4 separate regions of the Homo sapiens genome follow, and all the other regions are linked to region 3. The links come from fine-mapping of genetic effects on gene expression. A gene starts in region 3. Each other region holds a variant in brackets. All regions are shown on one strand. Distances are between the middles of the regions. Region 1 overlaps CACNA2D4 (calcium voltage-gated channel auxiliary subunit alpha2delta 4). Region 2 overlaps CACNA2D4 (calcium voltage-gated channel auxiliary subunit alpha2delta 4). Region 3 holds the start of CACNA2D4 (calcium voltage-gated channel auxiliary subunit alpha2delta 4). Region 4 overlaps ERC1 (ELKS/RAB6-interacting/CAST family member 1).

Region 1 (8,094 bases), 110 kb after region 3:
GCGCAAATTCTGGGCGGCAACGCGGCAGGTAGGTGTGATGTCGGGCCAGGTCGGGGCTGGGGACTCACCACGCTCCCCTGGGTGTGAGACCCCCTCTCCCTCCCCTTGGATGCTCCACTGCCTTGAGGCTCTCAGGATGCCCTCCCGGCCCCTACACTTCTCAGCCCCTCAGCTCCCCAGCCTGCAGGCCGGGCCTCAGCGCTGGTCCCCAGCCCCTGCCAGCCCAGTGCTGAGGGCACGACCCAGAGTCACCCCTTCTCGCCACTCCAAAGCCACTGGCATGCCTCCCCGCTGAAAAGGGAGAGCCACCTCGATCCACCGTCCAAGGTCCGGGGTCCAGGCCCTGATGGCTGGCAAGAGATGCCAGAGACGACAGCGGCTTCTGGCTGAGAATTCCCAGCTCTGCCTGGCCTCGTCCTGTCCGTTCTACTGGCTCCTTTCCCCTCTGCTTCCCCAGAGCCCTCAGGTCCCTCTGGGCTTCTGAGCTGCCCCCTTCATCTCCCTCAAGCTCCCTCAGCCTCAATCTCCTGCAACGCCGAGCCCCTCGGCCCCCATCACTTGCTGCTGCCGCCTGACTCTGGGCAAGGGCAGGGAGCCCAAGAGTGAATCGAGAGGGATGGAGGGCAGGGGGCTGCGGTCACCCACCGCCTCAACCAGACAGCCAGTGCAGGAGCCCCACAGAGCCCACAAAGTCCCCTCCCCACACCAGCAACGAGGCCTGGGGGCTGCAGAGCCTGCACCTCTAGAAGGGCTACCTGGGCCCTTCCACCACCCAGGGCCTGCCGAATGCAGCACCCGCAGGCCACATACCACATGCATACCACGCACACAATGCTAACACACACCACACGCATGTGCCCTCCACGTACAGACACCCCACACATAGACACACACATGCACACACCTCACACACGTGCTCTCCACATACGACACACACATCCCACACCCACACCCCACACAGGTGCCCTCCATGTGCAGATACACACCCCATGCACACATGCACACACACTGCAGACGTACCACACACACAGCATTCCCACTTACACGTGCCATTTCTACTACACATGCAGTGTCCACATTCAGTCTCTCCTCTTCCTTCCAGTGCAGCACTGTGGATGGGCCGTGCACACAGAGCTGCGAGGACAGTGTAAGTTCTGCCCGTGTGAGGAAGGTGGAGGAGGGAGCCATGGCCCTCCGCCCGGTCCTCCTGGCAGGCCAGCTTCCCTCTCCCAAATGCCCTCCTTCCCTGCAGTGAAGCTCCCACGCTGCCTTCCAGAGCTGGGGGACAGGCTGGAGGACCGGGGTGGGTGAGGGCCCTGGCATAACCTCCCTTCTGGGTTTCCTCCCAGGATCTGGACTGCTTCGTCATCGACAACAACGGGTTCATTCTGATCTCCAAGAGGTCCCGAGAGGTGAGTCACTGGGGATATAGAATGAGGGGGAGAGGGCGGCAGGAGGACTGGAGACATTGGGCAGCCACTCCAGCTAAAGAGAGCCCCACGGCCCCAGGAGGGAACCCTGTTCGGGGCCAATTCAGGTGAAAGGTCTGAAGAACATGGTGTTCTGACACCAAAGTCAACAGAGCAAGAAGGCAGAATTTGGAGCACTTTTCAACTCAGGGAGTCAGAGAAAATATTACTTCTTCATTTTATCTGTCACTAGCCTGGCCTCCTCCCGTGCCTGGTAGGAGCCACTCAGTGACCCCATCTCAGGGCCCTGCCTGGCCACACTGGCCCAGCCTCACTCGGGGCCTCCCCACAAGGATCCAAGCACACTCACTTATCAGATCATTCCCCAACCCCCGCCTGCCTTTCTACCATTGTGGGGCCCAGAAGACATGGCTTCCCCACTTCATGTTCTTGTCCTGTCTGGACCTTATGGAAAATTATACTCTCACCCACCACGCCCGGCCTTCGGTGTGTCAGAGAAGAAATGGGGGATGGACGCGATGCTTTCTCGCCTGAATGCCTGGCTTGCACATCCTAATCCTCCCCCCGCCCCCGCTGGCTGTGGGTATCTCCCTGAACCCAGCATGTGCTCAGAAAGGAAAAAGAGAAAGTACAATAATATTTTTATACTTGCTGGGCTCCAAAAGGGGCCTCAAAATGGATTATTCCTTTAGCCAGGAATCAAACTGAGAAAGAAGCCCATTCAAACCTGAAGCAAATCCAGATATATTCACCAGATGTATTTCCTTGAAGCAAGGCAGAAGCATCAGAACCGCCTCCTGCCTGAGCCTCGGGGAAAGGGGCATAGTATTTGGTTCTGTGTGAGCTTTGCTACTAATTAGAAACGTGATGTGGGCAAGCGACTTCCATTAGCTGTGTCTCGCCGGGGGCTGGACTACACAGTGTCTAAGCCAGCCCCAGCTGAGGGCTCTAAGTTCCTGGGATGTGGAGGCTGATGCAGAGGTCGTGGCCAAGGCCACCTCCACGCATGGTAGGGCTGTGGTCTGGCCTGACCGGGATGCGGCTTCGGATCCAAAGAAGTCGTCGGAACAGGGCAGGAACTGGAGCAGGGATGTCGGAAGGAGACTTGGGAAAGAGGGCAAGTGAGGACAAAGGGGCACCAGTGGGTCATGAAATCTAACTCCTTGGGGTAGTGTTTAAATGACCCACTTAACGAGCAGCAGTTCTCAGCCACAAGAGTAGAGAAGCCAAAGATGGTTTCGTTCAACTTCCTGTTGGTGGGAGTGTGGGCGGGGCTTTGCAGGACACACAGCTAATTGAGCATCACGGTCACCTGGGCGCCTGCCTCTGGTACCCTCCCCCTTCTCCCTTTCATGCCCCATTTTCGTCATTTCACTCCTCCCCAGACAGAGCACCGGACCTTTGTATTTTTCCGTTGTTCTGGGAGAAAACCAGTGATGATAAGAGTTGAAACCAGTGGTTGGTGTGAGGCTCTGGGATCACTGATGCCCCCTCATTCGTGCTCCGACCCCTCTCGCCCTGGGTGACTGAGACTGACCGTGTCCCCAGGCCTCCCGTGGTGTTGGCTTTCAAGGGCCGGAGCATGGGCTAAGGCATCCCAGAGAGAGCTTGCATCCTGGACACTGGGATGGGAGGTGGCAGGACAGAGGGAGAGGATGGCCAAGCCTGAGAGCAAGCTCAAGAGCAGGGGTAGGCGAGCGTTTCCTAAAGGGGCGGATGCACATGTTGGTTTTGAGCTTCATGAGACTCAGCCCTGCTGTTGTAGCAAGAAAGCAGCCATGGGCGATCTGTGAGCAAATGCAGGTGGCGTTGCTCCAGTAAAACCTTTGAATACTGAAATGTGAATTTCATATAAATTTCACGTGTCATGAGATGTTATCAATCTTTTGACTTTTTTTCCCCAACCACTTGAAAATGGAAAAGCCAGTCTTAGATCAAGGGCTCACATGAATCAACAGTGAGCCAGGCTTGGCCTACGGGCTGTAGTTTCCAGCCCCTGCTCCAGAGGCAGCGGGACAACCGTGCGGGGAGGCGGCCCTGGAGGGAAACCACCCCAGCCTTGAGAGAAGCTGGAGAGCACGTGGCCTCTCCAGGGTCCCTCCAGGGTCCCTCGAGGGACCCTCTCATAACCCACTGGGCCACTTTGGTCCTATTCTGTCCAGACCACATTTGCTCACATGTCTTCACAGATTGTAAAATCACTGAGAACAAGTTTGGATTAGATGTGGTAGCAATCAATTACTCAGAGATTTATATTTTATAATGTATTTGTTGACTTAACTCATTCACCCCCATTTTCTCAATGATTCTATTACCTTTTTACCCCGTGTGTAGTTTTATATGCCATCCCAAACCCTCCATGAAATGAAGCAGGGCAGAAACGAACTGACCTTCTAGAGGCTCCTGCTGGGGCCCCCGCTCCCGCCGTGCTTGGCTCACCCTTGCTCCCCCACTGTGATCAGGGCCCAGTTCCTCCTTCCTCACTCTGGACAGCTCTGACCATGCAGCCTGAACTGTGTCGGGTTATGGGAGGGCACTAGGCCAGAGACCCTGCCTGGTGTGGTGCCTGGCACACAGCAGACACTGGGTAACCGTGTGGAGAACTGAACTGGCCTGAGAGTGAGGGCTGGAGGCAGCAGGCGCTAGACTGGGAGA[T/C]GAGTGGAAGACAGGGCGGCGGAGAGTCTGGGGCTAATGCCATTTGTTCAGCTGTCCGACCCTCTGTCCGTCCATCTGTTTTTGCTGTTTTTAAAAAAACTTACTCATTTAACAACTCTAGAGCAGTTATCTATTGCTGCACACAAACTATGGCAAAAAGAGTGGCTTACAAGCAGAAGACTTAAAATCTGGCAGTTTCTGTGGGTGAGGGATCTGGGTGCGGCTGGCTCAGGGTCTTGCACAGGCCACAGCATCAAGGTCCCCAGGGCTGCTGTCATGTCATGTCCAGGCTTGACTGGAGAAGGATCTGCATCTGGTCACACGTTGGCAGCATTGAGGTCCTCCAGGGCTGTGAGGCGGAGGCCTCCTCTCCCATCACAGGGCAGCTCACAGCAAAGTTCACAGTGCAGCTCACAGCTCAAAGTTCCTTCATCAGACCGAGCAAACCAAGGTGGAAGTCACAGTCTTTTGAAACCTGATGTCAGAAGCGACACCCCATCACTTTTACCATATTCTGCTTGCTAGAAACAAGTTACTATGTCCAACCTATACTCAAGAGGAGGGGCTTACACAAGGGCAGGACTCCCAGGAGGCCGGGATCATTGTGAACCACTTTAGAGTCTGCCCACCACCAACTCCCACCAACCGACCCAAACCTGCCCCTCTTCCCCAAACACACAAGTGCCATCGAGGGCCACAGGGCCTGGCCTCCCCTAACTCATTCATTCCTCACTGCTCCTCCCTGCTTATCTCTAGGCCTCCAGTGTGGCTGAAGGACAGAAGCCCCAGCATCTGGGAGCTTGTTAGAGATGCAGATTTGCCAGGGTCCCACCCCAGACCTAGGGACTCAAGCACTCTGGGGTTGGGGTCTGGCAGTCTGCTCAAAGGGGCCCTCCAGGTGACTGGGTGCATGGTGGGTTGAGAACCCTCCCCAGGCCTCCTGGCTGCTGTGGATCTCAATGCACTTTAGCTGGCTGCTGTCACTTTCCTGACTAGGCAAATATGTCAAAGGCTTCCAGCGACTCCTTGTCCCTGCTAGGGCTTACCCAGGGGCCTGGAGAGAGAAGCCTGTTGAGCTACAGATGCAAAGATTCTTCCCAGACAAAGTCCTTGCACACCCTCCTCCCCGTAGTCAGTGAGTGGGGAAACCACAAGGGCCTCATCTGCAGCCAGCCCCAGGGAGTGGCTGCTTGGCTCTTTCTTGGCACCGGCGGTGTTCCAGGCCTGCTGATTAGACATTTGGCCTCTCTTCCAGGCCAGGGCTCATTCTTATAAGAGTTATGGATGACAAGATTGCAACCCTCGATGTGGGGCCTAGAAAGAGAAGCAGACAGCTGGGGACAGGCAATGACAGTGGCTTTGTGGAGCTTTGTAATATTTATAGTGGATCTGTCACCCTGAATCTGGGGACTCCGATTCCTGTCATTTGCTTCTGGGCGGCACCCACCCATGGAAGCTTCAAAGTGGATCTTCAAGGGGCAGCAACTGCAGCCTAGAAAATCCGAGGCCCCATCCCAGCACCTTTCCCTGAGGGACCTGGATCTCTCAGAGCACAGCACCCTGCTCCCTCCACACCCCAGCCCAGTGAGCCGGACCAGGCAGGCCCTCAGAGCAGGGCATCCCTCTCTGTCGTCAGGGGGCATCAGGCATGCCTTTCTGGGCCTCGGCTCCTGTTTCTCTGAATCCCTCTCACCTTCCCTGCCGCCTGCGGCCCGCCCAGCCCAGGCTCCTCATCTTCAAGTCACTATCCCAGCCTGGCACGTGTTGCCATCCTTTCCACTCTGGGCAGCCTGCCTTGGCCATCTTCCGGGACACCACATGCCCTGGCAGCGGTGCTCCTTCTACCTTCCTGGCGTCCCAAATGGCCCTGCTCCACTGGGCCCTCCAGGAATAGAATTAATCCTGTCGTGGTCAGAGGCAGGCTCTTCAGGTGGCTTTCTGGGGAGTGCAGTGCTGCCCCACCCCCACCCCGCTCCTCCACGTACCTCCCAGGCACCCCTGAGTGTCCAAAACACTCCTTAAGAGACTGCAGCCTGGAGGACGGAGGGGCAGGTGAGGCTGCACAAGCCAGGAGCAGACAAAAGGAAACTGATCCCGACCCGAGCCAGACACAGGGACTTGAGTGTCCACACCCCTTAGGAGGATGAGCTCCCATCTTTAGAGAAGAAACGGAGGCTGTCCCCAGGTAAGGAGGCCATGGGACATTTACTCCATCTGTCATCAGAGTCAAGAGCACCCCTTCTCTCTGGGCACAGCCTCCCACAGCCCTGCAAATTAGTCCAGGCCTGGGAGGGACTACCCAACCTCTCATCACTTGGTCGCCTGCCTCTGCCCCCATCTGCTTCCCCCGCAGGCTTCTGGGTGGTGCTCACAGGACCTCCTCCTCCTGGCCTCCCTCCAGACTCGAAGGCCAGGCAGGGGGGGTCCTCGACTCTTTTGACCCAGCCCCAGAGTTCAGGCAGCCCACGGGCCACTGCTTATTTGTGAATTGTCCCCCATGAAAGGGGGGCTGGGGTGGTCAGGCCCCTGCATCGTGCTATGCTTTGGGTGCCACTCCACGGGCGGTCTGGGGCTCCTAAATCGACAAGGCATCCCACGTCGACGTTTGGACCTTCGCTTTGCAGGTTCAGGGACTGTATTTGAGTCGGGGATTTGCCCTGACAAAGTTCAAAAGAAACTATCAGCCAGGAATTGTGTTCTGCTGCCAGAAGAGAAGTGGCTTAAACAACTAAAGGTTTATTCTCTCATAAAAGAATGGATGAAGGCAGCCTGGGCCCAGCCTGTCCCCATCCGCACGATCCCAGCATAGCTGGAGGGGCTCCTGCCTTCGAGTCCACTTCCCAGAGCGCAAGAGCGAGGATGGGGAAGAGGCAGGAGGCCTTGGGCCCGCTTCCCGGAAGTCCCTCCCAGCGGCTCTGCTCACATTCCATTGGCCAGTCCCTGCCGCAAGGGCTACTGGGAAATGTAGTCTTTTCGCTGAGCACATGGCTGCCATAATTAAAGTCAGGCTGCCTAACTAAAGAAGACGGGGAGAATGGATATTTTCTGCCAGAGTGACAAATCCTAGAAAAATCAAGCTAGTAATTTATGGAGGGGGATACATTTTTCTAGTGTCCAGGATACACATCCTTGCTCTCAGGGACCTCTCTTCTCAGAATCCAGGGTCTAAACCACAGGGTTGTTGGTGAATAAGCCTAGAATTAGGAAGGAGAATGGGACAGGTTTGTAGGAATTAAGACCAGCCTCGTCAGAAGCCTTGTCTGCACCCCGCTGCACTTTCCCAGGGAGCAGAAGACTCGGGTCATTCATTCCCTCACACATTCCTTCAGCAAATATGCATGGAATAATAACTGTGAACAGGACATGGTGTGGTGCTGTGGGACAGAAGTGGATTTCTGTCCCCTAGAATCCTGCTGTCAGGTGAGGGGGTGACGGAGGGGACACACACACACACACACACACACACACACACACACACACACAGTAACTAGAATAGCAAAAAGCGAGCCCCAGCTGAGAGAGTTTACTCCAGCTGGAGGCACCAGGGAGAGCTTCAGGGCTGCGCCGTGAAGAACAGGCAGGATTTCAATGTCTTTCACATTCCCATGTGCTGTTGTGTCCCTGGAATGCCCTTGACCCTCCCTGCTGTCCCGCTGCCATGTCCACTGCCTTCTTTCATGCAGCCTGCCAGGGCTTTAGGTTGCCACTCCTTTCCACCACCGTAGGAGGTGCCGGTTTTCAGCCAGCCATGTCTGAGAGTTTGTGTGTTCCCTGCCTGTCCATGCAAACTAGTCTGAAGCTCTTGATTCGTGTCCATTTCATTCATCTTTGCATCAGACTCACCTGGTGAGTGCCTTATGAATAAAAGGTATTATGAAATAGTTTTTGGTGGTCAGGCCATTCCAGGTAAAGAACTAGCAGAGTGTAGACAGACAAGTGTGAGCACCTTTGTCTGAATCTGTTTTCCTGCTGCTTACTTTTGTAATTGACCCTCCATTTTTAGATTACA
Region 2 (7,480 bases), 120 kb after region 3:
ACACACACACACACACACACACACAGCATATAAAACAAATCCAGTTTCATAAAACATTCTTTAACCTTGCTGCAAGTGATTCACACAGAATTGTTCCAAGGAATTCTGTACCATTAAAAAAATCACATTGCAGCCTCTACGTTGGTCTCATAGTCAGCTAGCGGGTGACTCCTTCCAGTTGAGGAAGCACCAGGCTGGACGGTGAGGAGGGAGCCAGGACCGGACAGGGGCGTGGGTGGAAGGGTTCAGCTGGATTATGCTGAGAGGCAGTCAGAGGGAAAGCCCAACTGGCACCAAAAGCCTCGACCTGAGCTGAATAAATAGTGCTGGACTCGGAAGGCTCCATCCTGCTCCATCTCTCTCCCTCCCTCTCTCTCTGCTGTCCCTCTCTCACAGACGGGAAGATTTCTGGGGGAGGTGGATGGTGCTGTCCTGACCCAGCTGCTCAGCATGGGGGTGTTCAGCCAGTAAGTGGGGCACACTCCTCCCCAGTCCAAATAGACACAGCAAACCGAGAGCTGACGCTAAGTGGTCCTGGCGGATCTCAGGATCCTGACCTCCAAAACCCACAGTGGGTGCCCCCAAAGAGCTGCAAAAGCAACCTTTATGGAGCCAGGGCGTCAGCATGATGTGGGGAGGGCGTAAGGGCATGTGGGCATCCCTGGGAGGGGCTCCGCAGCTCAGACCCTAGAGGGAAAACCGTCCAACTCCGAGGGCAAAAGCCATTTGCTCTTCATTGTCTTTAAACCATTCCAAGTGCAGAAATGTAATTTTCAGCATGAGCTGTATTCTGATCTGCTGTCCTAGCTCAGGCGCCCTTGGGAATTGCGGTAAACGGATGCTCTGCTAGTAAAGCCTCCTGAGGCAGGGGCAGGGGGTGGGGGTGGCTTTGGACTCATCACAGCCCGCTTCTGATTTTCAGAGTGACTATGTATGACTATCAGGCCATGTGCAAACCCTCGAGTCACCACCACAGTGCAGCCCAGCCCCTGGTCAGCGTGAGTGTCACCCAGCCCTTCCCTCTGCCAGCCAGCCAGCCAGTCCTCTGCCCTGTCCTGGAATGAGGTCACTGGTCCCTGTTCTCACCCACCTTGGGTGTCTGGCCCCAGGGCCCTACCTTGACCATCTCCATCTTCTGCTCAGAGCCACTGCTCTCAGTCCCACTCCCAGGCAGGCCTCTGGGTCTGGCTTTGGGGCTTCAGAGGGACTGCTCTGGTAGTTGTGACACAACAGTGCCTCTGGCGGAGACAGAGAGAGCAGCCTGCCCCAGCCTCAGCCCCTGACACTGCCGCTTGATCACCAGGGATCCTCAGCAGTGCAGCACCAGGATGAGGGCTTGACTCGTCTCCTGGAGGGGCATGTCCAACCCCACCCGAGATGTCTGACCTGCAATAGGCATTTCCCAGCTAGCTCAGCTCTGCAGGGCAGGTGGGAGGTGGGGGGATGGGGGGTGCTGGGCTGCTGGCCTGTGCTCTGCTGCCCCTGCTCCCAGTGGCAGGGCAGCCCACTCTCTGGTCTCTCTGAGGGTGGTGCTGGTGGTGGGGGGGGGGCACCCTCACCCTTGGACCTAGGTGCGAGCGGTGTGCACTCTCTCCTTCCCAGCCAATTTCTGCCTTCTTGACGGCGACCAGGTGGCTGCTGCAGGAGCTGGTGCTGTGAGTGGGGGTAGACACGGGGCTGGTGGAGGGCTGCATGCGAGGGTGGCTTAGGAGGGTGTCCTTGAGCAGGAGGCTGCAAGGTCTCCAGGACAACCCACTTGCTACCAGACCCCGGGGAAGGAGGGCACAATCCCTGGGCATGGACGCCACCTCTTCCCTGCATGCTGCCCCTGGGAGGGACCTCATTGCTCAACCAGAGCCCTCAAGCAGGGAAGAGGGTGTCCTGGAGGAGAGGGGATGGGCCGGGGGCTGTCAGGGATACTCCAGCTCCTTGGGAACCCAAGTCGGGAGGGCTCAGAGGTCTCCGAGATTCAGTCCTGTGTCTGACAGGTTCCTGCTGGAGTGGAGTGTCTGGGGCTCCTGGTACGACAGAGGGGCCGAGGGTGAGTGCACGGAGCTGCAGGGCCATGTGCTGAAGAGCAGTGGCATTTTGGTCCACTAACGTGAGACCATTCCCTGTGGGGTGGGTGACAGTGGGGATAGGTGACCCTGAAGCATCGTTGTTCACATCTCACCCTGCGTGGCCTTCTCTCATCACATCCCTCACTCCTGGCTCTGTGTGTGACATCATCTTGGGACACCGCCACTCCATGTGCCATCATCACCACCCCATGACATCCTGCCCTCATGTGCCACCATGTTTTCCTGTGCCGTGTCCACCCTGTGCTGGGCTTATGTTCCGGCCAGCCAAAAGTGTCTTCCATCACTGTAAGTAGCCCAGCTGAGGCCATCCCTGCTGGCGGTGGGTTGGGGACGCAGCAGGAGCTACAAAGAACCCACCCTCCATGACCTGTCCCAGGAATGACCCCAAGCAGGGCTGAGCTCTCCTGGTTTAAAGTACCATTCCTGGGGGTTGGGGGACTGGGGAGTCTAGCCCAGTTCTCATCCCACATGAGGACGGTCAGGCCCCAGGGAAAATGAGAAACTCCAGCCTCCCCTTGGGTGAGAACACGTAAGATTCCAAGAGGAAGCCGGTGGTGTGGCCGGGTGGCCATGAGCCAGTATGAGTGAGCAACCTCCAGCCCACCCCTTGGAGAAGCAAACAGCGGCACCCCAGCCCTCAGCGGGACTCCGGGTTCCAGGGGCCCCAGGAAGCTCTCAGGATGATTCCCCTGCGGGACCCTGTGTCTGAGGACAGAGTCCCCCAGAGGCAGCAACCATGAGAGGCCCCAACACAAAGCCCGGTGGCTGTGGCCACACGTGCAGGGCGGCAATGAGCCTGGCCTTTCAAAGCACTCACTGCCCGGGCGCCTGGGCCCTCCATGACTGCAGGAGGCCATCTTGCCTCAGCGGGCTCTGCTCAGTTCCTCCGTGTTCCTAGAACCTTTGCCATGGGGTTCCAGAACTTCCCACCACCTGGGCTGTCCCCAGCTTATCCCATCTCTTCATCTCCACTGTGGTCCTCTCTCTGGCTTGCTCTTCGTTCTCTTCTGCTGGCCTTGGCTTGGGGCTTCCTCTGCCCCTGGGCTCAGGGCAGTTCGGGCTGTGTCTCCAGACTCCTTCTGGACTCACATCCGCGATCGGGTGGGGCTGCTCTGGGGTGTTCACAGTCACTAGGTGTCAGTGACAGGACACTGTCCCCTCTGTCTCTGTCAGCAGCTGCATCTTGCAAAAGTTGAAGATGATCCCCCTCAATCTGCCTGCTCAGAATTTCTCTTCTCTGGGGTACCTGTCCCCTGGAGCTCCTCCCCCTGGTCTGGCCTACACAGATGTCAGTGTCCCCAGTGAAGGCGCACTGGACTTGGAGTCCCAGGCCGGGGCGTAGGTGCTGCAGCCCCTTCCACTGCGTGACCCTGGGGACGCCACTCAACCCTGCCATTGTCAGGCAGGCTTCTGTGCCCAGCCCTGGGGACAAAACTCACAGCCCTGGCCGCTGTGGGCTTGCTCCTCTCGGTGAGAGTTTTCTGCACGCCAGCTAGTGTCCCCTCTGGGTTTCCAGCTCTGGCTGGGAGCTTCTGGATTTGGAAGCTGGGGAGACCCATGCTCTCCTGTAGGACTCTGCATGAGCCTGGGAAGGTAGCTCACACCTGTGCTCCCTGCCTCTAGGTCTATCCCTGGGGGCCACAGCCAGGCCCTGAGAACAGAAGGGCCATGCAGACAGCCTGTGTGGCAGGGCCCTGCTCTGCCATGTGCCCACCTCAGGAGGCTCCGGGAGGGAACGGACTCGGGTCCTGCAGAGCGGGGCTGAGGCACTCGCCTCCACCTTTGGTTGAGTCCACTGTCCTTGTCCCAGGGAGCTAAGGCAAATCGCGCAGCCCCCGAGGAGTCCCGCACCGGGTGGCTGTGGCTTCTGGGCTTCCGCAGCCCCAGGCCTGGAGCCCACCTGCCCGGCTGCCCCCACCGCAGGCGCTCAGGCTCAATGGGTGGAGTGTGGGCCTGGCTGTGCGGGAGAGCAGGGCAGGATTGCCCAGGAACTGCACTGCGTCTGTCCACAGTGAAGGGAGGGGTGGTGGGCCTAAGTACCCCCAAGCCACCCCTTGGTGCCCCTACTGCCTCTGCTCCCCGCTCAGACCCTCCCCCGGGATCTGAGTGCTGGAAGGGGCCCTGGAGATGGTGCACTGCCCCCAGCTCAGTGAGGGCCAGGCTCCCCAGAGGAAGCGCTTTCCCTCCACCGAGGCTCAGGGCCCCTGCGGCGCTCCCCGTGC[C/G]AAGCCACCCTCTCCAGAGACTCCGGGTGTCTTCCCTCCCCTCACCCCCCGCCCGGCTCCTCCCACGCGTGTCCTGAGAACTGCCTGAGGAGGGACCCTCTGCAAATGCACTGGGGTGAACTCTGGCCCTGGGAGTGCCGAGGCGAGGTCACCGCAGGCCAGAGGCCCCTTCGGTGGCGTGATGTCCTTTCTCCGCCCGCAGCCCACAAACACAAGAAGCAGGACCCGCTGCAGCCCTGCGACACGGAGTACCCCGTGTTCGTGTACCAGCCGGCCATCCGGGAGGCCAACGGGATCGTGGAGTGCGGGCCCTGCCAGAAGTAAGACCGCAGGGCGGCGCCGCCCGTCCCGCCACACTCCTCCCGCCCTCGGCAAGGCGGAAGTGCGGGCAGGGCCCCGGAACCCCCGGGAAACGGCTCCACAGCCGGGAGGAGGGGATGCGTCTAAGTGCAGAGCCCACGCTCCCGGGGTCTTCCCCCGCCGTCCTCAGTGGAGGAGACACGCAGGAGGCGGACGGTCTGAGGCGGGCAGGACGGCTGGGGACCGGGACAGCCGGGATGGGGAGAGGTGGTCCCGAGGCCTGACCCTGTGTGTCGAGCCCACCCCGCCGAGGCCGCAGCCGTGACCCCACGGCGTCTCTGGGCGAGTGGGCCCTTCGGCGGGTCTCCCCCAGCCCTGCTCAGGCGGTGCCCAGGGCGGTGCCAGTGCCCGCGCCTGAGCTGCGTGGGGAGAACTTGGAAGGCAGAGGGAGTGTGAGAAGAGAAGGCCGGAAGTGTGCGATGTCCTCGGGTCGCTGGGAGCCCCGCGGGCAGCCTCTGTCAGGCTTCCTGCTGTGTGGAAGCCGCTAGTTATAACCCGCCCTGGCCCCGGGGAGGCAGGGAGGCCGCGCGGAAGGGTCTCTCCTGCTGACCCCCCGCACCCAAGCCCGGGAGGACCCCCACGCTGGGAATGCGGCGGCCTCCTCGAGGGTCGCCTCAGCCAGACGTGCCGCTCGCCAGGCGGTCCCTAGACCCCCGGGCCCGTGGCACACCATTTAACAGTGCGGCACCTGCGGCGCTGGCATCGGGGCTCCCTTCTCCCCCACTCCCTGCGCGTCGTGCTGCGCGGGTTTCACCCCGGGTTCTGTGCAGCGTTGAGGGCTGGGGTTAGCGTTCCCTGTGCACTTGTCGCAAAGGCTCGGTGCGAGGATAGAGCCAGCGGGCTCCGGAGTGAAGCGAGGGCTTCAGAGTAGACACTCCTGAATTGAAAACTGGCTCTGCGCTCCCCCGCTTATGACCGTGGGCAAGTGACTTCGCCTCCTCTAGTCTCCATTCTCTCATCTGCAAAATGGGCACAACACCAGCCTCATACAGAGCCGTGAAGGCTGAGAGTATACACGGCTGTGGTGTGCACGTTGGGTGTGTGAGACCGCCCATCCCAGGGGAGGCGCTCGGTAGGCGGCCGCTGGGACTGCTGGGAAGGCCGTGGGCCTGGCGGGCGGGCTCCGCCCCACTCCGCGCCACTCCTCGCAGGGCGGCCTCGCCGAGCGCGGGGCCACTGCGCCACCTGGTGGCCAAGCTCCAGCGCTGCCGCTTCGCCCGGGCCTGCCCCCGCCACCCTCACCCAGAGCAAGTGTTGCCTCGCCCGCCCATTTGCTCCGGACGGTCTTGATTTACGCCTGTCGTCCCTGCATATATTAATAGCAACTCTGCACTCTCCAAAGCGGCCCAGTTTGGACTTCCTCACTGTCTCCAGTCTGCTAGGAAAGGAAATGCAGCAGCAAAGGCTTGTGAGCAAAGCCAGTAGGACTGAGCCATCTGCCAGGCCCGTTCCCTTAGCTGCCCCGACCCGCCCTGCCTCATGGTTCCGGGCTTCCCTGCCACCCTAACTCCACACTAAAGTCTCCAGAAGTTCCTTCCCTAGAAGCCCTTCTCGTGGTCGCCACGGAGCCATCCTCGACTCCCTTTCTTTGCTGCAGGGTATTTGTGGTGCAGCAGATTCCCAACAGTAACCTCCTCCTCCTGGTGACAGACCCCACCTGTGACTGCAGCATCTTCCCACCAGTGCTGCAGGAGGCGACAGAAGTCAAATATATCCTGCAATGCTCGGGGATGTGTGCGGTGGGGGCGGGGGCTGTAGGAGGTGTCTGTAGGGCTCAGATTTTGAGCAGCGGGGCCAGCCTCCTTCACCGCCCGTGTCCTCCACAGGGCTCCGTTATTTGTTCTCTAACCCTTCCCTGGGCCCCGGTGCTGCCTCCTGACCCTAAAGCTGCTTGCAGGGCAACTGGTGGCACCAGAGCAGGTTCTTCCAGACCTTTTTCCAGTCTGCAGAATGGGCTCCGGTCCTGAGATATTGACCTTAACAGTGGCTTCTGCACATAATGCCTCTGTCAAATGTGACCGGATGCGCTCCCAGAAGCTCCGCCGGCGACCAGACTCCTGCCACGCCTTCCATCCAGAGGTGCGGGTTGAGGCGGATCGAGGGTGGGCTGGATTTTCATCCCCAAACCCTCTGTGCCTGGGTCTGTGCCCCTGCAGACAGGAGCATATAGGGATGCCAATGAACACACCTGTGCCTGTGCTTCTCGGGGGAAACATTCGCGTTTATGCCCTGTGACACTGTGATATAATAAGAAACAGATCTTTATTTAGTCTTTGTCCTGATTCCTGGCAAGCTCCTAAAACGCTTGTTATTTCCTGATTAGGGTGATAGGTGCATCTTTTGTTATAGTGTTTGGTCTTAGTCCCTGGTTCCTTCACAGGTGCCTCTAAGACCCTTGGAATGATAGAGGTATCTTTGTATGCTAATTAGATGACTGGTGGCTGGGGGCCCTAGACAGGATGAGAGCTGGCCACAGGAAACACCAAGTTAGGATTAGAGGGTTGGGACTTTTGGCTCCAAGCCCCTGGCTTCTGGGAAAGGAAGGGGGCTGGAGACTGAGTTGATCACCAGTGGCCAAAGATTTAATCAATGATCATAATGAGGCCTCCATAAAATCCCCGAGCCACTGTGTTTGGAGAGTGTCCGAATTGGTGAAAGGGTGTGGGAGCTCTGCGTACCCCGTGCCTTGGCCTACGTGTCTCTTCCACTCAGCCGCCTGACCTGCGTCCTTTATAATAAACGGGTCATGGTGAGGGAAGCACCTTCCTGAGTTGAGTGAGCCACGCTAACAACTCACGGAGCCTGAGACAGGCTCAT
Region 3 (5,539 bases):
TCATTGGTCACCCCCAAAAAGTAAGGAAATTCTGACACACGCGGCACCGTGGGTGAACCTTACCGACATTGTGCTAAGTGAAATGAGCCAGTCATGGAAGGACAACTATGTGATGACTTCCCTTCTGTGAGGTCCCTAGAACCGTCAACATCAGAGATACAGAAAGGAGAGTGGTGGCCGCCAGCGGCTGGGGGAGGAGGGAACGGGAGCTAGTGTTTAATGGGTTCAGAGTTTCAGTTTTACAAGATGAACGAATTATAGAGATAGATGGCGGCGAAGGTGGAGCAACATGATTAATGTATTTAATTACACTAAACCGTACACTTAAAAAGATGATTAAGATGGCACATTTTATGCCACAATAAATATTGGGCCACAATAAAAAAGTTGAAAAAAGGTGAATATTTATTCAGTTTTAAAAATCATTCCAAATTACAAATTTTAAGAAGCTGGTGAATTCCACCAAATTCACAAAACCTAGAGAAGTTACATTCTTTTTATGTATTGACTGCCCAGTGTGCCTCTGTAGTATTTTTTCTAAATGTGTTTGATTTGTAATCCTCAAAACATGTACAAAATTTATGTGAAATTAAGGCATTCATAGGAATCATTTAGATGCCTTTAAAAAATACATTGTATTCAGCCACAAAACTGTGCCACCAGATTACTCTGATACTACAGCACTGACTTATTGATGAATCTGTGTAGGAGTTTTGTCATCAGAACACTTGCTTCTGCAAGCATTTCTCTGCGTTGGTGGCAATTTTGCTTACCATTTTGCTGGAACCACCAGATTTTGTGAAGACACAGTGCACCAGTTACACTAAGAAAATAATCTGATACGGGGACTGCATAAAATCTATGACTTCACCCCCGGAGAACCCATGTGGTACTACTACTGGTTTGGGCTCACAACACAAGAATTTTGATCAATTCTAATTTGTGTAACTCTCATCAGAACACAAAGCAATGTACGGTGTAATTATATTCTTTCAATATCCACTATTTTCCTAACAGGAGAGAACTTCTGTCCTGGCCAGGCCTTGGTGAGAACCAAATCCTCCACCAACGATGTTACCTGTGTGGCTTTTTGTAGATTTTCTGCAGATGAGCTCCTGACTGTTACTTTGCCCTCCCCACCACACATGGCCAGGGTGGGTGTGACAGCGTGCGCTCACATCACGGCCCAGCCTCTCTTGCTGCATCTGCTGGTGGGATGTCCTGTGGGATGAGTGTTCCTGGAAGCCCTGCCTACACTCAGCTGGAGGTAACTTCTCTGTACAAAGAAGTCACTGTGAACCATGTCAGCATATCCCACTAAGCCCAGATTAAGTGTTTCCCCAGCTCACTTTCCTCTTAACTGGATCCCCCAAGTGCCCTCAGCCACCCAAACATCATCCAACTAAGAGTCCCTCAGACGGAAGAGAAGTTGGGATGGAAAGAGACAGACAGTCTCAACCGGTTATGGTTAAACTATCTCAACTTTTGCATATTTTACAAAAACATTTGGCCACAGGAACACATTGCTAGGGCCTCTCCGGGAAAGGGGGGAGTCTGTGGATTCAGGGGTCCTGAAGCTTCATCAGTTGCACAGCAAATGCGTCCCCAGCCCCGCCCACGAGCAGCTGAGATGTGGAGGCGTGGGTCCACTGACTTCACCTATGACCTATGACCTGTCCCAAAGGCACCAGGCCTGGAAACACCAGCCAGAGTCCCAGCTCTGCCCCTGGGACTCCCCGGGCCTCAAGAGCCTCTGCCAAGCAGGGATGAGGACACACCCCCACCTCAGGGTCAACAAGAGATTTGTGGGTCAATCAGAGTACTGTGCAAACTCAGCTGCTGTCCTCTGGCCATAGTCACAGCAAGCCCTTCCTGGGTCCAGAAGGTGGTTCCACAGGAACGGGGCTGCCTCTTTAAAGCAGAGGGGTGCACTATAGCCCTGAGGGAACCAGCTGCAGTTGTGGTAATCTTGGGAGGCAGCTCCCCACCCCCTGCCACCCCCTCCCTGCTGTCAGGAGAGGATTAGAGGAGAGGCCAGCGGATTAAAGGGTTTCATGTTGCCACAGCCTCTCCCCCAGTCCCTGTCTCCGAGGCCTGCTTGCTAGGTGGGGCGACTCTTCTGTGAGCTGCAGCTGTGGGGCAGAGAGAAGCCCTCCCCACCCAGGACTGAGAGGCTGGAGACCCCAGGCTCGCCAAGGCACGGAAGACAAAGGCCTGGGGCGTCCTGGGGTCTGGGAGGAAGGCAGACAGAGCTCATGGTCTGTGGCTGCTCTGCCCTCCTTCCCCTCCCCAACCCCAGGCCCACCATGCCTGCAACTCCCAACTTCCTCGCAAACCCCAGCTCCAGCAGCCGCTGGATTCCCCTCCAGCCAATGCCCGTGGCCTGGGCCTTTGTGCAGAAGACCTCGGCCCTCCTGTGGCTGCTGCTTCTAGGCACCTCCCTGTCCCCTGCGTGGGGACAGGCCAAGATTCCTCTGGAAACGTAAGCATCACGTTCAACCCCACCCCAAAAACCCGGTCACCCTTTCCCACTTTCTTCCCGGGCTGGGCCTCCATCCTCTGCCCACTCCTCCCGCCCCTGCCCTCCCTCTGGGCTTTTCCCCAGTGGCTGCGACTGACCACTCTCTTGCTGTAAAGCCCTTTGCTTCTCCGGCCTCCTCTTTCTCCTCCCAAAAGCTCTGTGAGTTCTGGAGTCCCACCTGCCTCTCCCCAGGAGCCGGATGGCTTTAGGAAGAACTGATCATCAGGGCTGCTGTCTTCCTGGCCTGACAAGCAGCTTCTGGGACACCTGAAGGGCGGGTGCTCCTTCAGGATAATCGCTGAGATGAGGCAGCCTGGAGGAGCCGGGTTATCTCAGCATCGCAGCTCCCCGAAGCATTTGGCAGGAAATGCGTATTTTGACATTCCAAAAAGGGGAAGCAGTTCTGAACCCACAGAACGTCTCATGCGCACAGGAGGTGGCTTGTCCAGGAACTGGGGAAAAAAATGGATTTTGGTGGCCGCAGTCTTCCCTTTCTACACCTTTCTGCCTCCTTCCAACCTTGATTCTCTAGCCGGCCATTAAGACCGGCTCCAGGAAAGAACCCGGTATCAGTCATGTGCACCTTGGTGTACATGTAAATTACTGTGCAACCTCTCTGGGGTGTCTGTGTTTTAGGCCCTAGCTCAGGTGGTCCTAGGAAGGAAATTTCCAATACATGTGGGTAGCAGAGCCTTCTAGACTGTAGGTGCTACAGACCCCATCCTGTTTACTCCAGCCGCTTGAGCCCAGCACCATAGCCAGGCCACCAACAGAGCCACCTGCCAACTGCATGTCTTAGCAGGAGTGGGGACAGGGAGCCTAAATGACACACCGTGCCTGTGCTTAGCCTTTGCTGACCAGTGGATTAGGCAGCATCGTTTCCCATCGAGCCGCATAGCTCTCCTTGTTCCCTGCCTGGCACGGAGCTGGGCGCTTCACAAATGACACCGTTAGTTTGCAGAGCCATTCAGTGGGGGCTTATTTTTATCCCTATTTTGCAGCTGAGGAAACAGAGGCCCCGAGAGGTCAGGTGACTTCCCCAAGTTCACAAGGCCAGGAAGTGAAGGTGCTGGGATTTGAACTCCTGTCAGCCTGGACTGCACTTTCACCATTACACCCGCCGCCAGCCCGTAACGCTATCTGTTGCTGCAGGAGATGTTCAGAACAATTTTCATCCCCAGAACACACACCAGCTGATAGGAGAGGGCCAACTCCAGGAGTGGGCTGAGGGCCAAGTCGGGGTGGCTGGAATCCAGGCCTTCAGGGAGGGGGGCCCCAGCGGCCATCTATGCAGAAGCCCTGGGTGCTGCCAGAGACAACAGCCTGCACACAGCCTCATCTGCCTGCCCAGGACTTGGCCCCACCTGTCCTCACTCCCGCCGAACCTCTCTTCTCAGTCTTTCCCTCCAGCCGGGCTTCCACCTCCTCCCAAGTCTGTTTCCACAGGGTTCCCAAAGCCCTCCTCATGCCCAATCCAGGAGACATTCCTGGCCTTGTCACCCCAGACCCTGTTGCTTGGGACACACAAGCCCCCGTCTTCTTTTATCCCAGTCCTTGACTTCCGTGGCACTGCGCTCCGCTGGGCCTGCATGGGCACGGCTTATCTCTGCTGTCCTCAAGTGCTCCTCCTCCTCTGCCTGCCCCGGAGGTGGGGGGTGCTCCCCAGCAGCTGTCGACGCTCAGAGATCTCACGCTGCACACTCTCCTTGAGAGAGCCCTCCTGCCCTCAGAATTTCAATCCCTACCTTTGCATCAATGACTCCCAGCCCTGTCTCTACCTACTAGACACATACCCAGTGCTTATGGGCAGCTTTTCCTAAACATCATGTGAGGTTTTAAATTCAGATTTGTGTCTTTCAAGGTAAAACACAATTGGTGCCTTCTAGAGTTGTGCAGTGCACAACCTTCCCAATGGTACTTGGTAGCTCTACAACGGGAACCTCACATTCAGCAGAGCCCAAGGTACACACATCACTTTTCACCCTCCTCAGCTCATTCCCCCTGCCCTTCCTGATAGTCTTAATTGTATTCAGTAACAACACCATCAGGTCAACAACCCACACTGGAAGCCCGGAAGTCACGTTTTACTCCTCCAAGCTCTTCTGTACTCCCGACCTAGAATCCTCTCCCAGACCCCTTTGCAGGCTAACCTCTACCAAACTTCTAACCTGGAGCTCAGATCTCCCTCCCCAGGGAAGCCTTCCCTTATACCACTACCCCTCCCCAACCTTCATGGGCACCTTCAAACATGTACTATGCTACCCGCATGACAAAGCTGTCCCTGCAAGGGTGGGGACTGTGGGGTGGCTCCAGGCTGCCACATGGTAGGACCTTGATAAACATTGGTTGAGTGATGACTGCTGATCTTGAAAGGATCGCACAGGCAAACCACTTCCGCTCCATCTGGAGAGGCTCAGCCCCAGCCCTGTGTACCTGCCCCCAGGACCCCACCAGCCTGGCCAAGATGGTGGGATTGTGGTGCATTTCTGGGGCATGGGCGAGAGGTCGGGGCTCCCCACTAGGCTGCCTACACAGAGGGTGAGGTGTGGCCTCCTTATGCCCTCCTGGCCTGCCCTGCCCTCAGGCTCAGCAGTGGCAGCTCAGAGCCTTTTCCTGCTGTGCCCTTGCCTCACGCGTTCTCTGAGGTTTCAACAGAGGGTTCGGCAGCCCCCAGTGGCTTTGAGTGGAGTGCACTGGAGGGAACGATTTATTGAGAGGCCACAGCTGTGGCCAGGCAGGTTGTCCTTTGTCCTCAGGGTCCTCCGGCCCTGGCCTGAGGCTGTCCACTGCCTCTCCCCTCCTTCTCTCCTCTCAGTCTGCCACTCTCCAACCAGAGGCCCTGGAAGCTTGGGGTCAAGCTCAGTCCTGGGCTCGTCAGCCCGGCCCCACAACCCTCAGCAGGAGAACCTGCCGAGGACATTCAGCACACAGCAGTGCAGCCGCTGGGTCCTGAGGGTTCTCCGCGTCTCCTGCCCAGGCCATGGCTGTAGCTTTAGGGACAAGGAGGAGGGACAGGTG
Region 4 (8,094 bases), 430 kb after region 3:
CGCCCTTCTGGCTCTTCTACCTTGGTACAACAGCAGCACCATCCCTCAGCGCTGGGCACCTACTCTAAGCTCTGGAACAGTGAGACCTGATACGGATAACCTGGCCCGGGGCTGAGGGTAGAAAGAAGGAAAAAGGGAACCGGGAATTGACTTTAAAAGCTGCAAACCCGGAGATCAGGCGGGAAGGGAAAGGAGGCTCATGCCCGTCAGGGCTGTGATGACTCCCACACCCACCGTAAATCCTGGGACCCCTGGCCCTCGGGCTGCCTGCCATTGGAGTTGGCCTCTTGGGCACTGCAGACCTTGTCCATCTTTTCTAGCATTTGGGGACACACCTTGCCTGGATGATCAGCTGGGTGACACTCAAAGAAGGACACAGCACGGTTTTTAAATAACTTTATAATTTCCTGGTGGATTTAGTTTGTGAATAAAAAAGAAAAAATGAACAAAGTGTTTACAATAATTATCAAGGCAAAGTTGAATATAACACAATTTCTTTGTAATGTCATTATCCTGTCAGTAACACAACTCCAGCAGGAACACACACATACAGCTGAAGGCAGCGGGTGCACGTGCATCCCAGACACCACCATGGAGGCTGCTACTGTTACCAAAAGGAACTCAAGCTACAAGGGGGCAGGTGCTCCTCAGCTCCTCCACTAAAGTGCAACACTTCTCTTCTGACGCATCAGGGAGCAGTCACAGGCCCCACTGGATATCCTGCAATGCCCGGCAGGTGCCTGGGCTAGTCCTGCGATGGGCCAGCAGGCCAGAGTGGGTGGTGCTGCCCTCAGGATGTGTAGCTGCAGTAGATGGATGCAATACTGGCGTGGTGTGGAATGAGGGGCTGGACCCAGAGGGCCTGCTTTGGCCGGGGTGAATTCTCTGGCTTCAGTAGGGTTCACTTCCTTTCCTGACAGTGGCTTCTCTGGGGTCAAGAGAGAGCCTGGGCCTAGGAGATCTAGGGTCTAAAAAAGCTCAAAGGGAAATAATTGAGGGCCTGAAGCCAGAAGGAACTGACATGGAGGACAGTCTGTTCCACCTGGATTGCAGGCTCCAGGCTGGCCAGTGCTCACCCGTGCTGGGTGGTCACTGGAAGAGATAGCACCAAGTGGGCAGGAGAGGTCCTGTGGCCTGCCAGGCAGGGGCTTCAGGGTCAAGCCCAGGTTACCATGCAGTATTAGGCACACTGAGCTAGAACCCACGTCGGGTGAGGGTGGTTATGGGGTCACAAACTGTGAAACCTCTACCCAGAGGTCCTGAACATGTATAGGAAAATCCTGGCACAACTGCGAGGCTCTGAGCCCCAGATTCTCGTTCCTTTTGCTCGGCAGGTGTCTCTTGCCCAGGCAGGCACTACCCTAAGTGTGCTCCATGCTTCCTAAGCCGCCAGCCCAGGGCCACCTATGCCAGCCTGGGAGGAGGGGAGTGTGGCTGCCCCATAGCTTGAATTCCTTTATTAACAAGATATTGGTTTGCATTTTTAAAACACAGCTGTTTAATTTTTCATTTCTACAACTACGTTTTAATCTTTTAATAATCTCAACAACAGACACAATGTAACTGCCCCAATTCTCTGAATCACACAGACAATATCGACAAGCAGAGAAAGAAGAGAGGAGGTGGGATGGGACAAAAACCCGCTCCCCCAAATCAATCCCTAAAACCACTTCTCCCCCAAGAGTCAGGAGAAGTACCTACAACAGGGCCACAGCACTTGCCAAACACATTGGAAAAAATCAGGAGACAGTTGGTTACATTTTTGACACTAAAAAGTCTGGAGACGGTTTTTGCTGAAGAGTAGGTGAAGATAGCCATTTTGTTCAGAAGGATTTCCCTGTAATGTATGTCTTTTCTTGCAAGAAGAGTAGGTGAAGACAGCCATTTTGTTCAGAAGGATTTCCCTGTAATGTATGTCTTTTCTTGCCTAATTCTTCCCTAATTTGCATGGGGGAAACTCCAGATCCTCTTTAAGACATTCCTTTGAGTGGTTCACGTCCCCTCCTGAGCAGCCCAGGGCTGGCAGTGATGGACGGGCGGCCTCACTCTGCAGAGGGTGCCTGCTGCATTGCAGTCTCTTCTCATCCTTCCTCCTCAGTTCCGAACCCAGGCAGGTGAAGAGGAGGCCAGGAGCAGATGTTAAATTACTGGTATTTGCTGACACAGGGTCCGCTGGGCTTGAGAAATGCCATGTGGTGTCACACTCCACGCAGCGGTCTTCTCTGCTTGGCTCTTTCCTCAAAGACTCTGAGGGTCTTGACACCGGGCCTACACTCAAGTAACATGGTCAACAGGAGGGCGGGATGGTTCTGGGAGGAACAGGACTCTGGCAGCAAATCCAAATGCCAGTGGATGGGCGGCTCAGAAACATTTATATTTTGGGGTGACACATGATGGTTGCCTCACAACCCTGACCCTCAATAGCGGAGGGATTAGTTCAGCAGGTGGCTAAGACCGTGTCTGTGATGACTTCGCCTTCCTCTTCTCTCACTCTGGGGGTGGGTGAGCCCGCAAGTTCCTCATGGAAAACCAGACTTCAATGGACAGAAATTGAGGGGCAAGTCACAATGCCCTTCTTGACACTGAAGGCGGCCTTGGGTCCAGTCTGCTTTACAAGTTATTTCTAAAACCCAAGTGTGAGGAAGTCTGAGAGCCACAGGTAGATCTTTAGATTGTAAAGTGCAAGGACAAAGGTTAAAAGGTTAGAGCTGAGATGAATTTGGTGATTCCCATCCATATATATATATATATATATATATATATATTTTTTTTTTTTTTTTTTAAATGGAGTCTCTGTCACCCAGGCTGGAGTGCAGTGACACGATCTCGGCTCACCGCAGCCTCTGCCTCCCAGGCTCAAGCGATTCTCCTGCCTCCTGAGTAGCTGGGATTACAGGCGTACGCCACCACGCCTGGCTAATTTTGTATTTTTAGTAGAGTCGGGGTTTTTGCCATCTTGGCCAGGCTGGCCTCGAACTCCTGATCTCAGGTGATCCGCCTGCCTCAGCCTTCCAGAGTTCTGGGATTACAGGCGTGAGCCACTGTGGCCGGCCCCATCCATATTTCTTAAACATGTTAAAGCCCGTTCAAAATTTTTCCATTTCAAATGGTATCAAAGTCCTTGCAAATCTCAATTGAGATACCTCATCAATGATTCAATGAGTACCGGGGGTTAGAGGTATATGAAAAGATGAGAAGCTCACACTGGGCTTCTTCAGTTACAAAACCCCGTTGGGATCACACCCACTCTTCTTCGTGCCCTCTTTATGGTGACATTGGTTTGGGGTGCAGATCTTTAGGTGCTAAAGGGCAACTAGACTTGCCGATGGAGGGGTTTGGGGAAAATTAAGGGCAACCTGCACTGAGTTTTCAAGGCTATATAACTTCAGTAGCAGTTGTATGCCCATATGAAACCATGACCACTAGGAGAGGGGCATGGAATGACAAGTCCTAGTGTGATGGGAGTGGGACATTTGGTTAAGTGTTGGTTCAATGATCTAGACTCAATGAGACACTCTGAAAGCTACAAACTGCATCCACTCTGCCCTACAGCACGAAGGCCACGTTTATTACTGAACTCCTAGCCAGCCTCCAGTGCCCAAGAACGGTCAAGAAGATTCCTTGCTGTTCACAGAGACCAGACAGATGATATCGGTCCCGGAAATGCTTCTTCTCAGAAGCAGTGTCACAGAGGGCTTCCTTCCATCCGTTTTTCTGGAGGGGAAGTGATGGAGAATGCTGAGATGAAGAGGAGAGTGACACACCCAGTGGCTGAGAGTGGCAGGCGCTGCACCTGATGAGAAAGTCCACGTGGGTGGGATCTGGGCCACCTGCTTGGAGAGAGCAGCTGGCCAGTGCCCGTGCCAGACCACTTGTTTAGGCATGGCCTCGCCTGCTGTCTTGGTTCCACCGTGGCCCCGTGAAGGCTGTTATCACACCGCAGTTCTTTACGTTATGGTGGATAAAGCGAGATGCTAACACTCCTGCCTTTCAGTGCTGGGAGCTTTCTACATGGTTTACGGGCACTGCAATGAACAGAATTGAGGTAACTGACCACAAACGACCACCACTTACTATCTAACCCCTGCACCCCTCTCTGGCCAGCCTGGCTATCAGGAAGCATCTCAGTAAGAGGTTTATGAGCAGAGTCCATTTAACCTTCGATAAGAAACGCTCCACAGTTTCCTCTCACAGGGAGAGGGATTGTTTCACAGCAGGGAGTAGGGGGAGCTGGAAATCTGACCATGTCAGTTAATGGGACAGTCAAGGGCTGGTGGTGGGAAGTTCCTGGACTGATGGGGCTGTGCTGACTCTACAGACTTTAAATTCTCTGAGTAAGTGGGGAAGGAGAGGAGAAAATGCAAAACAAAAACATCGAGTCCAGCAACTCTTATCAGGAGATGTGAGTGTCTGCTGGGTTCTGGTGGTAGAGGTGGTCAAAGAACTAGATTTGGG[T/C]TAAGTTCCTGCCTAATTATTTATGACTGCTGTTGTCTACGCTACGTCCTTAACAATGCCAATACCTTCATTGATTTGCAGTCTTGGGGTCAGCTTTCTGATTTGCAACATGAAGCTGGCTGAATTCCACGAGGTACATGCAGATGTCAGGAAATGGCCACCCACAAGTAGATACTCAGAGCCCCTCTAAGGGCAATAACAAACAGCAAAAATCCAGAATCATCAAATGGAATCCTACAGGCAAGCGGGTGACTGAGACCCCCAAACTCATGAATTCCATTAGGGAACTTTTCTAGAAAACACACCTTAAGATCGGGGAGGGGAAGGACATGCTATTTACTGCTTCAACTCCAGCAGGTATGTCTCACAGAATCCACTACATCTCTCCCTCACTGAGAAGTGGCCTTTTCAAGGATGGATGACTTGCACACAGTAGGCATTTCATAAATATTCTCTGAATGAAATAACCGAGGAAGGAATGTGTGTAGGAGGAAAAACCTTCATTTATGCTAGAAGAAGGTTCCAGGCAATGCACGAGGCTGAGGTTCAGAGAAGACGAGTCAAGGGCAAAGCTAGCAGGGTGAGTGAGGGATCACAACTTCAGCAGCCACTGGGCTGCAGGAGCTCAGGACACGGGTGCTGGCAAGGCAGGCAGCCTCTTGGAGGTGTTCAGGGGAAACCAGCCCAAGAGCAACGGGCATCTGTTACTGGGGCAAAGCTGCAGGCGGGGACAACAGGGTCTCATATGTCAACTTTGTATGTTCTCTTTTTAATTTTTTGTAGAGACAGGGTCACGCTATGTTGCCCTGGCTGGTGCTCTTTCAACCTCACATGTTCTTCAATTAGAGATATTTGATCTAACACCTCAGTATGATAACGTCAACAGTCTCAAACAGGAGAGACTGGTGGAGAACACCTCACACCATCTTCTTGTTAACTGGCCGAGGAACAGAGTGAGGAAGGCTGCGACAGACAGGCAGGGCTGGATGAAGACTCAGACCTTGGGAGAACGAGTGCTCCCAAGCCATCGTGAGGCCTGCTCACAGCTCCCCGGTACAAAGCATCTCATGTGGAAAGTAAGCAGAAGAGACAGTAAAAAGAAGAGTCGATTTTCTCTTCCCTTCCCCCCTTCTCTTTTTCTAATCTTTTTGAGATTGTTTTTTGCCCTTTTAGGAGAAAGCACCTATTGTGATATTAGAACACTCAGCTCTCTGGTCCATTGGAGGCATCCTCTCAGCCTGTTGAACTCCAAGTCCATTCCTGGTTTCATTCTCATGTCAGAGGACAGGAGGTGAGAGGCTCCTCTGCTCCATGGCTCTCTGTCAGGGCAGAGCCACCAGCTCCCACAGTTCTCCACTGCTGATGACCAGGTGGCAGTTCTTCAGAGAGATTCGACCCTTTATCTACCCTGGACATCAAGAAGGTTAGTGTAGAGACCACATCCAAAGCAGAAAGGCAGAGTAAGATGGCAGATGTAGAAACGGTGCTGGAATCACACTTCTTCAAGTGAGCAAGTTGGGATGAAGTTTGTAGTGTTTGGTGCCAAGAAGGTTCCGGGCACCTGTTCCTCGTAGTTCTCTTTTCTTGGCTCCTGGGTTGACTACCTCAGGCTTCCCCATAAAGCAGGGTCAAGAGGACTCTTCCAGGGCGTTGACCACTTGCTCTAGGATGTCGGGACAATGGTCTGCTATCTGCTGAAGAATGGCGTTGGCAAACTCCTGCAGTTCTGCATTGTCCCGTTCACCTTTCTCTAACTCATCCTGAAGCTGAAAGGGAAAGGAGAGATGGATTTCAGATACAACAATCCCATTTGCACTGAGCTAAGAATTATTTTTCATCAATAAATGACAAAGGCACTCTGTATGTGAAGTCTCTCTGCATCAAAATTAACCATAAGAAAAGTGTAAAAGCAAATATCAAATGCGTCTTCATGAAAGTGAGGCCCAAAAAGTTAGTCACTGGTTCTAGGCCGAAAGCTGATCATTTTTGCAGAGCTGTGACTTCAGTCCTGGCCTCTCACTGTAAACAGAATGTTCTCTCCACCAAGTCACAGGCTCATGAACGTGCATGAGAGCAGGAGAGAGGGGCATGGTGATCTCAGAGAGGATCCTAACCTTGTGGAGCGACCCTCGCCCTAAGGGAACTTAGAATTTAAAGGACTTCTCCATTTGCCGTGTATCGCTTTCATCCGGTACATTAGCCTACCCACCTGAGGCCTGCTAATTTAGCTGAAGAGATTACTTTGAGAAACACAAGATAATCCCTTTGCTTAGAAGTAAGTATATTTCTAACTTCCTGTTGTTTTTAACAGCCTCTTTCACATTCCTTCAAGCATTTTAACCAACCTTTATTGAGCGCTACTCTGTGCTGGGTGGTGAAAGCTGATGGGATTTGGTCCTTGTCCTGAAGACACATTTAGGTTAATGGAGACAAGCATGTAAACAGATAAACGACCACCCAGCAGAGTGAGGCCGCAGCTGAGGCTTGAGCATGTGCTGTGGCAGCCCTAAGAGTGTCTGCTCACCCTGAGGAGTCTGAGGAAATGCTACTAAAGAGGCGTGGGGTCTGGATCTTCAGAGCTGACTAGAGTCCGTCTGGGAGACCAAAGACAAAGGAGGCTTAGCGCAGAAGAACAAAGGCTGATGCGTGGGGCTGGGACAGGCCTGGCCCAGATCTTGCGAAAAGGGAAGCCTCAGGATGGCAGGAATGTAAGGCACAGGGAGTGGGTGGAGAATGACAGGAAATGGAGCTGAAAACACACGCGAGGGCCAGACTGAGCACGTGAAGTGAGGACGTTCCAGCGTGATCTGCCTAGAAACCAAACCACAACCACAAAAAAGGAGTCCACGCAGTTTTAAATGGTACAGTGACATGAGCATCGCCACTTTCTCAGACTGAGCAGAAGGAAGAGTCCACCAAGGGCAGCTCCTGCTCGCAGCCCAGGTGGGGGTTAGGCAAGGCTGATGCAAGGGAGGGCCAGGGACGTGGAAAGGAACACACAGGTCTGAGCCTCTTCAAAAGGCAGGACTAAAAGGAGGAGGTGTCAAGTGAGGGAGAACTGGAGAATCATTTCTGACAATTCTAGCTGGGGATATTGGACAAATAAGACCAAGAACGAAGGAGACAGCAGGTTTTAGGAAAGAAAGGAGGAAAATTAAAAATGGAATATAAAGTCTAGTTAAGAACATAGGCTCTGGAGTTAGGCTGCCTGGGTTTCAAGGTCAGTTCTGCCGATCAGTTCATCTGACCTTGACTTGTCTGAGTCTCAGTTTCCTCATCTGTAAAATGAGGCAATAATAACCATGTCAGGCCAATGTTTTAAATTTTAATTTTTTGGAGAGATGGGAGTCTATATTGCCTACGCTTGTCTTGAACGCCCAGGCTCAAGTAATCCCGCCTCTGCCTCGGCCTCCCAAAGTGCTTACAGTCGTGAGCTCCTGTGCCCTACCTTATAGGGCTGTTTTAAGGATTTAATGAGATAGTCATATAAAGTGCTTGACAAATATTAGGTGTTCTAACTGTTACTAAATGGGTAAGATCACCCAGCAAGAGCATACAGATTAAAAAGCAAAAAGGGAGCTGCGTACAGTGGTGCATGCCTGTAATCCCAGCTACTTGGGAGGCTGAGGGTGGGGGAAT

Evidence for each region. PIP is the estimated chance that this variant, and not a neighbour inherited with it, causes the effect.
Region 1: its variant is fine-mapped to the expression of CACNA2D4 in whole blood (INTERVAL, PIP above 0.99).
Region 2: its variant is fine-mapped to the expression of CACNA2D4 in thyroid (GTEx, PIP above 0.99). The same link has a PIP of 0.9 or more in breast, esophagus muscle, fibroblasts, gastroesophageal junction, sigmoid colon and subcutaneous fat.
Region 4: its variant is fine-mapped to the expression of CACNA2D4 in monocytes after LPS (Fairfax 2014, PIP 0.95).

The regions. Positions count from the first base shown.
Region 1 is chr12:1,803,596-1,811,689 of GRCh38, reverse strand. It overlaps CACNA2D4 (calcium voltage-gated channel auxiliary subunit alpha2delta 4), which reads left to right. Exons shown (of 38, transcript NM_172364.5): 27 at 1-28; 28 at 1,103-1,147; 29 at 1,350-1,412. LOC105369602 (a long non-coding RNA gene) reads right to left here. Exons shown (of 4, transcript XR_931549.3): 2 at 5,779-5,987; 3 at 5,132-5,399; 4 at 4,193-4,560. Among named protein-coding and RNA genes, the nearest start is that of LRTM2, 13 kb to the left of the region's middle. RefSeq lists a silencer at 6,955-7,114 and enhancers at 6,853-7,147, 6,275-7,197. The variant T/C (reference allele first, on the strand shown) is at 4,086.
Region 2 is chr12:1,794,561-1,802,040 of GRCh38, reverse strand. CACNA2D4 (calcium voltage-gated channel auxiliary subunit alpha2delta 4) reads left to right here. Exons shown (of 38, transcript NM_172364.5): 30 at 397-467; 31 at 923-998; 32 at 1,603-1,655; 33 at 1,989-2,041; 34 at 2,346-2,366; 35 at 4,506-4,623; 36 at 6,261-6,373; 37 at 6,660-6,742. It overlaps LOC105369602 (a long non-coding RNA gene), which reads right to left and starts at 1,602. Exons shown (of 4, transcript XR_931549.3): 1 at 1,118-1,602. RefSeq lists enhancers at 4,005-4,909, 4,910-5,815, 5,927-6,494 and silencers at 4,837-5,066, 5,167-5,296, 5,637-5,966. The variant C/G (reference allele first, on the strand shown) is at 4,304.
Region 3 is chr12:1,915,190-1,920,728 of GRCh38, reverse strand. CACNA2D4 (calcium voltage-gated channel auxiliary subunit alpha2delta 4) reads left to right here and starts at 2,077. Exons shown (of 38, transcript NM_172364.5): 1 at 2,077-2,482. The coding sequence starts at 2,256. RefSeq lists an enhancer at 3,428-4,004.
Region 4 is chr12:1,488,220-1,496,313 of GRCh38, reverse strand. ERC1 (ELKS/RAB6-interacting/CAST family member 1) reads right to left here. Exons shown (of 19, transcript NM_178040.4): 19 at 383-6,221. The coding sequence ends at 6,084. Among named protein-coding and RNA genes, the nearest start is that of LINC00942, 8.2 kb to the left of the region's middle. RefSeq lists an enhancer at 6,355-7,554. The variant T/C (reference allele first, on the strand shown) is at 4,456.